Regions from separate parts of the Homo sapiens genome. Here region 2 is linked to region 1. The links come from fine-mapping of genetic effects on gene expression. A gene starts in region 1. The other region holds a variant in brackets. All regions are shown on one strand. Distances are between the middles of the regions.

What was found. PIP is the estimated chance that this variant, and not a neighbour inherited with it, causes the effect.
Region 2: its variant is the best candidate, but not a certain one, in a credible set for the expression of ATXN2-AS in caudate (GTEx, PIP 0.67).

Annotation. Positions count from the first base shown.
Region 1 is chr12:111,596,759-111,602,127 of GRCh38, reverse strand. ATXN2-AS (ATXN2 antisense RNA) reads right to left here and starts at 2,630. Exons shown (of 2, transcript NR_146497.1): 1 at 2,575-2,630; 2 at 1,873-2,300. It overlaps ATXN2 (ataxin 2), which reads left to right and starts at 2,813. Exons shown (of 25, transcript NM_001372574.1): 1 at 2,813-3,344. The coding sequence starts at 3,094. RefSeq lists an enhancer at 2,079-2,308 and silencers at 2,769-3,078, 3,139-3,308, 3,399-3,448, 4,039-4,168.
Region 2 is chr12:112,084,512-112,089,880 of GRCh38, reverse strand. NAA25 (N-alpha-acetyltransferase 25, NatB auxiliary subunit) reads left to right here. Exons shown (of 24, transcript NM_024953.4): 4 at 2,080-2,198. Among named protein-coding and RNA genes, the nearest start is that of NAA25, 22 kb to the left of the region's middle. The variant G/CCTG (reference allele first, on the strand shown) is at 2,965.

The DNA of each region.
Region 1 (5,369 bases):
CAGCTATGTCAGCTTCAGGCCTTCTTTTTTTTTAATTTTGAAAAATTTTTTATGGAGAGGAGGGTCTCACTATGTTGCCCAGGCTGGTCTCCTACTCCTTGGTTCAAAGGATCTGCCTGCCTTGGCCTTCCAAAGTGCTGGGATTATAGGTGTAGGCCACTGTATCCAGCCTAGGCCTTCTTATTCAACTTCCATCGACCTGAAACTTACTATTTTTTTTTTGAGACGGAGTCTCGCTCTGTCGCCCAGGCTGGAGTGCAGTGGTGTGATCTCCGCTCACTGCAAGCACCGCCTCCCAGGTTCACACCATTCTCCTGCCTCAGCCTCCCAAGTAGCTGGGACTACAGGTGCGCATCACCACACCCAGCTAATTTTTGTATTTTTAGTAGAGATGGGCTCTACTAAAAATTGGCCAGGCTGGTCTCGAACTCCTGACCTCAGGTGATCCACCGGCCACTGCCTCCCAAAGTGCTGGGATTACAGGCGTGAGCCACCACACTGGCCAAAACTTGTTCTTAAGATTGTATTCTGGGACCTTGATTCCAATCAGAGAAAAGTGATTGTATTTTTTTATTTTTATTTTTTTTAGATAAAGTTTCGCTCTTGTTGCCCAGGCTGGAGTGCAGTGGTGCCCTCTTTGGTCACTGTAACCTCCGCCTCCTGGGTTCAAGCGATTCTCCTGCCTCAGCATCCTGCGTAGCTGAGATCACAGATGCCCACCACCACGCCCAGCTAATTTTTTCGTATTTTTAGTAGCGATGGGGTTTCACCATGTTGGCCACGCTGGTCTTGAACTCCTGACCTCAGGTGATCCATCCGCCTCGGCCTCCCAGAGTGCTGGGATTACAGGTGTGAGCCACCGCGCCAGGCCAAGTGTTTGTATTTCTATTAAAGAAAGAATATAACGGGACACCATTGACGACCTGCTCCATTGCAGGCCTCCTTGCTGTTCCTCAGACTCCCCCCTCAGAGCCTTTGCCCTCGCTGTGCCCTCCACCTGGAGCGTTTCTCCCCAGGATCCTCATGCCCATGCTCATTTGGGTCCCTGCCCCATGTCACCCTCTCCAGGAGCTTCCCCTCACAGCAGCCCTGGCCTGTACCACAGCCGGGTACAGGTATTTTTTTGTTTCAACTGGTTTTTTAGTTCCAGTTTCCTTTAGGTTACTTTATTTATTTATTTATTTATTTATTTTTTGAGACGGAGTCTCGCTCTGTCGCCCAGGCTGGAGTGCATGATCTCGGCTGACTGCAACCTCCACCTCCCGGATTCAAGCAATTCTCCTGTATCAGCCTCCCGAGTAGCTGGGATTACAGGCGCCCACCACCACACCCGGCTAATTTTTATATTTTTGGTAGAGACGGGGTTTCACCATGTTGGCTAGGCTAGGTTAATTTTTAAAGGGTTTTGCAATGGTCCCTTGATCTACTTTTTACCTTAGATGGGAAATAAAACTGATTTCCTACATTGGCAGAATACAATGATCATTTTTGCCTGGACTATCTAGGAGGTTAATTTCAGTTGGACTACTGAAAACTGCTGGTTCAATCATTCTCCACGTTTATCTAAGTCTTTACCTTTATCTGGACAGTTCTAGGACATTGAGGGGAATTTTGGTGTTTCTTCCCCTATTATTTCCTGAAGTCATTTCACTTTAAAAAACAATAGATTCACTGCTCAAAAAAAAAAAAAAAAGTTACCTACTTTCTACTTGCTTCCAGTTTAACTGCAACACATTTTAAAAAGAGTCTACTGTGCTGGCTGGGTAAGTTAAATTAAAACTTCTAAAGGGTCCAAGGTCTAAAGTTCGCACATTGTTTTGAGGTCGGCTCTGTCTCTACCGAGGGAGATCCCATTATCCGTAGTTCTACCAGTCCCAATCCCATATATTTCCTTTAGAATCTCATGAATGAGGAAAAAGAAGTTCAAGTGAGGGAACATAGGTTCAAATGAAGGTCAGATACCTAAAAGAGTTTTCTGGTGACTGTGCGCGGCTGGGGTGGAAAAAGTGGGGAAAAGGTACCCAGATGTGGGTGGCCCCGGAGGGTTGCTCCACTCCAGCCCCGGCAGGGCAGGACAGCGCGGCCTGCCTGGTAGATGCCCCGAGCCACTGGAGCGCCTACTGTGTGGCGGGCGGGGGACGGCAGGAAAACGGCAGGATGCTGTGTCCCCTGAATCTGGCAGGGTTCTAGGTGCTTTACACGTAGCAAGACACATTCTCCGCCCCAAGGCACTCGCAGTCAGTCCATTTTCTGGGTTGCATCAGGTGGGGGCAAACTAGGTCCCCGCAGAAGTGAAGATGCTGAAGGAATACAGTAGGAGAAGAAATGCTTCTCTCCTGTCCTCCACACCAGGCAGGCCCCAGAGGCTGAGACCGACACGCCCTCCCCGAAGGGCAGACCCGCCTTGAGGAAGGCGGATCCGGGTAGGGACCGCCGCCTGGCCCTCACCCGACCCCCGAGAAAGCAACCCAGCGCGCCGCCCGCTCCTCACGTGTCCCTCCCGGCCCCGGGGCCACCTCACGTTCTGCTTCCGTCTGACCCCTCCGACTTCCGGTAAAGAGTCCCTATCCGCACCTCCGCTCCCACCCGGCGCCTCGGCGCGCCCGCCCTCCGATGCGCTCAGCGGCCGCAGCTCCTCGGAGTCCCGCGGTGGCCACCGAGTCTCGCCGCTTCGCCGCAGCCAGGTGGCCCGGGTGGCGCTCGCTCCAGCGGCCGGCGCGGCGGAGCGGGCGGGGCGGCGGTGGCGCGGCCCCGGGACCGTATCCCTCCGCCGCCCCTCCCCCGCCCGGCCCCGGCCCCCCTCCCTCCCGGCAGAGCTCGCCTCCCTCCGCCTCAGACTGTTTTGGTAGCAACGGCAACGGCGGCGGCGCGTTTCGGCCCGGCTCCCGGCGGCTCCTTGGTCTCGGCGGGCCTCCCCGCCCCTTCGTCGTCCTCCTTCTCCCCCTCGCCAGCCCGGGCGCCCCTCCGGCCGCGCCAACCCGCGCCTCCCCGCTCGGCGCCCGCGCGTCCCCGCCGCGTTCCGGCGTCTCCTTGGCGCGCCCGGCTCCCGGCTGTCCCCGCCCGGCGTGCGAGCCGGTGTATGGGCCCCTCACCATGTCGCTGAAGCCCCAGCAGCAGCAGCAGCAGCAGCAGCAGCAGCAGCAGCAGCAACAGCAGCAGCAGCAGCAGCAGCAGCAGCCGCCGCCCGCGGCTGCCAATGTCCGCAAGCCCGGCGGCAGCGGCCTTCTAGCGTCGCCCGCCGCCGCGCCTTCGCCGTCCTCGTCCTCGGTCTCCTCGTCCTCGGCCACGGCTCCCTCCTCGGTGGTCGCGGCGACCTCCGGCGGCGGGAGGCCCGGCCTGGGCAGGTGGGTGTCGGCACCCCAGCCCCCTCCGCTCCGGGCCCGGCGTCCCCTCCCCCGCGGCCCGCGCCGCCGTCCCCGCCCCGTGACCCGCCGGGCTACCCGGGGTGGGCTGGGGGCCGGCAGCGCGGGGGAGACTCGCTCGGGCCTGAGCCCCGAGGCTCGGCCGGTGGGCGCAGCCGGGGTCCTCTGGGATTGTCAGGCCTGTCCAGCCTCCCGCAGCATCCCCGCCCCCTCCCCCGGCGGTCAAGATGGAGGGAGCGGGCGGCCTCCCCTCCCCACGCGTGTTGGGAGGGGTTCTCGGGTAGCGGCGATGGTCAGCCCCGGCTCCCCCTTCCGCACGATCCTCCGCCCGCAGCGTGGGGATGCTCGGGCAGCTCCTCCACTCCCGGTTTAGGTGTGAACGTTGGAGGGGTCTGGAGGCTGTGGTGGCGTTTTCCGGAACATGTCCCCCTCCATGGGGGACATCTCTGGAGGGGAGAAGTTAGGGCCGCGTCCCCCGTGCCGGTTAAAGGGGTAGGCACCGGGCTCCTCCGGAATCATCAGGGTCTGTCGGGGCTCTCTCCCCGCCCCCTCCGAGTCCTGGGAAAGATCGGAGGACGGGGTGGAGACAAGTGGGCCTTGGCCCCCGCACCCCTCTGCGTTCGTGTCCGAGGCGGCGGCGGGGGCTCCCGAACTCCCCTGAAATCGTGGGGCTCCATGTGGCCTCCGGCAGCGTTCCACCCTCCCCCACCTGGGGAAGGGAAGGGGTGGGGAGTGCCCGGCCCCGTCCCGGCCTTCCTCCTTCCCCCGCCAGACCTCTCCGGCGCGCGGGTGGTGGCCGATCCGCATTGCTGTTCGAGGCCGCAGTGGAGAAGGCGCCTGTGGAACATCGGTGGGTGAGGGCTGGACCCAGGCTGGACCCTGGAGATCCGGGGTGGCGGTGCTGGTGGCAGGGGGCGGGCACCCTGCGCACTTATCCCAACCCCCGCCCCAATTTCGGAAATGCTAGGAGAGAGAGATTGCAGCAGGGGACGTGGTCGGGTTCCTGAAGGCAGAAAGGCGGGTGTTTACTAGCGTCTTTTTCCCTCCTAAGCCGGGGTTGTAGTAGGGGCTGGGGGCTCAGTGTTGTCCCGGCTAACTGGGTTTGACTCGAGGGTGTGTTTGTGCAGGAGGGCCTGTTGGGGGTGGCGGGCGGTTGTCAGTTCGTATTTCACGAACTAAGAAAATGCTTAGTGTTCAAAGGGAGAAGGAAACGTCAATAGACTCCATTCCATTGTGGCCGGTGTCCTTAACTTCGGGAGTGCCGCCAGAGCTTACCAAGGGCACGCAAGTCCATTTCCCTTGTGCCTCAAGTCCATCCGTGTTGTAGGCACTACTGTGCCTTCTTTAGGCCTAGGCCGCCGGCTTGACGGCGGGTGACCGGCGTCCTCCTTAAATAGGCATCTTGGGCTTTGGAAGGTGGAATAAGAGGATTTTTCATTCACCCGAGTTTTCTTTTTGAAAACACATTTTCAGCAACCCATTTCCAAAGAATTTTTATTTACAGCAGAAATTCCCCATCAAGAGGAATCAGCTGGTTTTTAAGGAATTCTGCTGCCTTCAAAGGGGGCGGAAACAGTCGGTTATTTGACTTTACACGCCCCGCCCCCCCTTCCCCTTCTCTGAGTCTGAAGCATCCCAAACACTACTTAGCCAAACTAGTTCAGATGAAGTGATCGTTTCCCCAAGTAGGGTAACTTCAGTTTCCCTTTTTCGTTGGCATCTAGCGAAAAATGAAAAAATTTAAAATACAACTTTTATAGAAAAGGATGTATTCTGTTTTTACTTTCTTAGGTATTAGGAAGAGATTTGGCAGATAATTCAACATGTTCAAATATATAAACATTAAAACTAAGGTTATTAAGTTGCATTGACTACTAGGCTTAAAAATTAGATTATAAGAGAATTTGCTCCTGAGTAGTTTGAGTGATCAAAGATATTTGGAATGTTTTAGTACCACAAGGTCTTTTTTCTGTTCCTTGAGGCTTTACAACAATTTAAGGTTAATTT
Region 2 (5,369 bases), 490 kb before region 1:
GCTGGGATTACAGGCATGCACCACCATCCCCAGCTAATTTTTGTATTTTTAGTAGAGACGGGTTTCACCATGTTGGCCGGGCTGGTCTCAAACTCCTTACCTCAAGTGATCCACTTGCCTTGGCCTCCCAAAGAGCTGGGATTACAGCCGTGAGCCAAGTGCACCTGGCCTCCTCAATCAATCTTAATTCTCCTTTTACCTACCAAGAGTTACTCGCTATCCTGAATATTTTTTATTCTCTTGCTTCCCTTTAAATGTTTATTACATTTATTTCTCTTAGTAATACATTATTAGTTTTGCTTAATTTTAAACTTTTGTTAGTGCATCTGTACTATGTATATTCTATGACTTGCATTTTTCATCTAATAGCCAAGTGGCTATAGTTAATCCATTTTCACTACCACAAAATATTTCACTGGGTTACATTACAATATCTAGGAGTAGAATTTTCAAGTCATGGGGTAAGTGTATGTTTAGCTTAAAGCAAGATAATGTCAACTTCTTTTATAAATAGAATAGCAGTTTTTGAGTTCTGATTGCTTACATGCTTGTCAACACTTGGTATTCTTTCTCTCTTCATTCATTCAAATAGCTCAGATTGTAACATTTGGTATTTGTAACCTTAATCATTTTTGCCAATTTCTTTTGAGACAGGATTTTGCTGTGTTGTCCAGGCTAGTTTGGACTCTTAGGCTCAAGCAATCCGCCTGCCTCAGCCTCCCAAAGTGCTGGGATTATAGGCACGAGGCACTGTGCTCAGCTTCAATTTTGTTTTTAATTTTTACAAAAGATAAAACCTAAGAGTTGAGGTATTATATCTGAGTATTTACAGATTGTGTTGATTTAGGGATATGGATTCTTCTCCAGTGTTTTAAAAAAAATCATTTACTCCACAAATATTGGTGGCATGTTTCTCTATGACTGGTATTCTATCAGAGTCAAAGATAAAAAATGCACTTTCAGCCGGGCGCAGTGGCTCACGCCTGTAATCCCAGCACTTTGGGAGGCTGAGGTGGGTGGATTACCTGAGGTCGGGAGTTCGAGACTAGCCTGACCAACATGGAGAAACCCCATCTCTACTAAAAATGCAAAATTAGCCGGGTGTGGTGATGCATGCCTGTAATCCCAGTTACTTGGGAGGCTGAGGCAGGAGAATCACTCGAACCCAGGAGGCAGAGGTTTCAGTGAGCCGAGATCGCACCATTGCAATCCAGCCTGGGTAACGAGCAAAACTCTGTCTCCAAAAAAAAAAAAAAAGCACTTTCTGTTGTCATGGCACTCATTGTCTATAAGGGGAAATAGATCACTAGACAGTATACTACATTATGTGTTAATAAATGCTATAGTACAGCCTGGGCAACATGGCGAAACACTGTCTATATAAAAAATAAGCCAGTTGTGGTGGTATGTGCCTGCAGAACAGCTACTTGGGAGGCTGAGGTCGGAGAATTACCTGAGCTTGAAAGGTCGAGGCTGCAGTGAGCCGTGATTGTGCCATTGCACTCCAGCCTGGGCGACAGAGTGAGAACCTATCTCCAAAAAAAAAAAAAAAAAAAAAAAAAACTACAATATACTTACTTATATAAGATTCCAAGATGGCAGAGGGAGGCAGTGGTCAAATTGCAGTGGAGAAGCAGAGATGGTGTTCAGAGAAAGTCTTACAGTTCAGCTTACATTTGAATTGGGTCTTGGCTGATGTTCACTAAGATAAAAGAGAGAAAAGGAGAATTCAGGCAGAGCGAAGAGTTTAGAGGCATAGAGTTATGTATGATACATCCCAGAGAATCTGGTGGAACTACAAATAGTTTGTGGCTACATGATAAAGTGCTGAGGGAAAGAGGAGACAGAGGCCAGATCCTATAAGGTCTTATATGTTGTAAATGCTATGAGAAGGCTTGACCTATTCCATGCTTCATTTAAACACCACCTAACCAAGAGATGAATGATGATTGGATGAGGCAAAGCAGATACTTCTTCTATAATGATAGGAGACATCTATTTCTGCCAAATAGGAAGAACATTAAATGCCATTAGAATGTTCTTGAAGTATAACTTAAATCTTATTTCTCTTTATCTTAGCGGAGTTAGTTACAAAACTTTATGAGGCAGCTGTGAAGAAAGTTCCCAATAGTGAGGAGTATCACTCTCACCTCTTCATGGCCTATGCCAGAGTGGGTGAATACAAGAAAATGCAACAGGTAATTTGATCCCCAAACCTACTGGGCTATGGGATTTACTATTAGAGGCAAAAGTCTCTTTCTTGTGATTTAACTGCACTGGGTATGTGTGTGTGTAGAATTGAATTTATGGATTTTTCTGTGTGGAGGTCAGTCAGTTGTTTTCCTTATGTGTTTAAAGTTGAACTATTATTCAAGATCTTTAAATGTTTTATTTGGAAATAAGTTGATTGTTCTTTTGTGGCCTGATGTTATGTTTTGTTTGGTTTTGGTAATTCAGCTTCAGATTGTCCTACTGCATCAGATTGCTGTTAAATTTTCAGAAAATGAGCAGATATACCAGAGCAAAAAATGAACAACTATGGAAAGAGTAACTTTAAAGTTTACATCTAATTTGTAAATTTAAACTGTTGATAGCCTGCTAAGATTTTTAAGTCCACCAGGGGGAAAATCCTTGTTGCCTGGGATGTTTCTTTTTAAATTTATTTTTTGTTTTTTGTTTTTTGGTTTGAGGCAGCTTATTTGGCAGCTACCATATTGTAGATATTCTTTACATACATCTGAAGGAGCCTCATTTGAACACATTTGAATTAGGTTGCGGGTAAAGCTAACATCTCAGAGAAATATAATCAGCATTATTAATTCCATAAATGGCTCTGATGTTAAGCTAGTATTTTTTTTTTTTTTTTTTTTTGGAGATGGAGTTTTGCTGTTGTTGCCCAGGCTGGAGTGCAATGGTGCGATCTTGGCTCACTGCAACCTCTGCCTCCTGGGTTCAAGCTATTCT[G/CCTG]CCTCAGCCTCCTGAGTAGTTGGGATTACATGCTTGCGCCACCACTCCTGGCTAATTTTGTATTTTTAATAGAGACAGGGTTTCTCCATGTTGGTCAGGCTGGTCTCAAACTCCCGACCTCAGGTGATCTGCCCGCCTCGGCCTCTCAAAGTGGTGGGATTACAGGCATGAGCCACCACACCCAGCCCAAGCTAGTACTTTTTTAGAAATGCTTTCTTTGTGGGTATAATATCTTCTGAAGGCAAAATTTTTTGGATTTTTATCTTATTCTTTACATTAAATATCAAGTTATAACAATAGATAATTTGGGCAGGGTGGCAGATACTATATTAATATAAACTCTTTCTTAAAATCAGTCTCTATATTTTAAGTTTATGCAAGTTTTAACATAGGAGAAGTTTTTTTCTTCTTTTTTCTTTTTTGTGATGGAGTCTTGCTCTGTTGCCCAGGCTGGAGTGCAGTGGCACGATCTCGGCTCACTGCAACCTGGCCTCCCAGGTTGAAGCGATTCTCCTGCCTCAGCCTCCCGAGTAGCTGGGATTACAGGTACACACCACCATACCTGGCTAATTTTTGTGTTTTTAGTAGAGGCGAGGTTTTACCATGTTGGCCAGGCTGGTCTCAAATTCCTCACCTCAAGTGATCCACCCACCTTGGGCTCCCAAAATGCTGGGATTACAGATGTGAGCCAGTGCGCCCAGCTGGAGAAATTTTTTGAGGGGTCCCAATGTAATTATTTAATAACATTTTGTTAATTTATTTACTGAAAGGTATTTAGACATTATAATTTTTAAAAATGTAAAATGGTTATGGGTGTGTGTGTGTGTGTGTGTGTGTGTGTGTATATATATATATATATATATATTTTTTTTTTTTTTTTTTTTTTTTTTTTTTTTTTTTTTGAGACAGTCTCACTCTGTCACCCAGGGTGGAATCCAGTGGTATGATCTCGTCTCACTGCAACCTCCACCTCCCGGGTTCAAGCGATTCTTCTGCCTCAGCCTCTCAAGTACTGGGACTACAGGCACATGTCACCACACCCGGCTAATTTTTGTATTTTTAGTAGAGACGGGGTTTCACCATGTTGGCCAGGCTGGTCTCGAACTCCTGACCTCATGATCCGCTCGCCTCTGCCTCCCAAAATGCTGGGATTACAGGCGTGAGCCACTGTGCCCAGCCATAAAATGGGTATATTTTTTAAAATTGGCAATGCTAACATATATACATATAAATCCTTAATATCATTTTTATTTGTAAGATTATGTTTTAAGCAAAGTATATTAAATATTCATTCATAAGGATAGAGTAAAAGAAGTTATAGTTCATCCCTATGGTACATAAAATACATTCCCACATCTCTCCAAATAATACTGGGTGTCTTTATATGGTTGACATATAAAGATGTTCCTAGTATATGTTAATTGAGACAAGCAGGTTGTAAAATGACCTTCTCTTCCCATTCTTCTCATGTTGTCCTCAAAAAAGATATACTTCTTTTCTTTCTTTTTTCTTTTTCTTTTTTTGAGATAGACAGACTCTCTCTGTCACCCAGGCTGGAGTGCTGTGGCGTGATCTCAGCTTACTGCAAACTCTGCCTCCCAGGTTCAAGAGATTCTCCTGCCTCTGCCTCCCGAGTAGCTGGGATTGCAGGTGCCTGCCACCACACTTGGCTAATTTTTTTGTGTGTGTGATATAGTCTTGCTCTGTCGCCCAGGCTGGAGTGCAGTGGTGTGATCTTGGCTCACTGCAACCTCCGCCTCCTGGGTTCAAGCGATTCTCCTGCCTCAGCCTCCTGAATAGCTGGGATTACAGGTGCACACCACCATGCCTAGCTAATTTTTATATTTTTAGTAGAGATGGGGTTTCACCATGTTGGTCAGGCTGGTCTCGAACTCCTCACCTCTTGACCCACCTGCCTCAGCCTCCCAAAGTGCTGGGATTACAGGCGTGAGCCACTGCACCCACCTAATTTTTGTATTTTTAATAGAGATGGGGTTTCACCATGTTGGCCGGGCTGGTCTCGAACTCCTGACCTCGAGTGATCTACCTGCCTCAGCCTCCCAAAATATTGGGATTACAGGCGTGAGCCACTGCACCTGGCTAATTTTTATTTATTTATTTATTTGATATGGAGTCTCGCTCTGTCTCCAGGCTGGAGTGCAGTGGTGTGATCTTGGCTCACTGCAACCTCCACCTCCCAGGTTCAAGAGGAGATCCTCCTGTCTCAGCCTCCCGAGTAGCTGGGACTACAGGCACGCGCCACTAAGCCCAGCTAATTTTTTGTATTTATAGTAGAGATGGGGTTTCACCATGCTGGCCAGGCTGGTCTCGATCTCTTGACCTCATGGTCCGCCCACCTTGGCCTCCCAAAGTGCTGGGATTACAGGCGTGAGCCACTGTGCCCC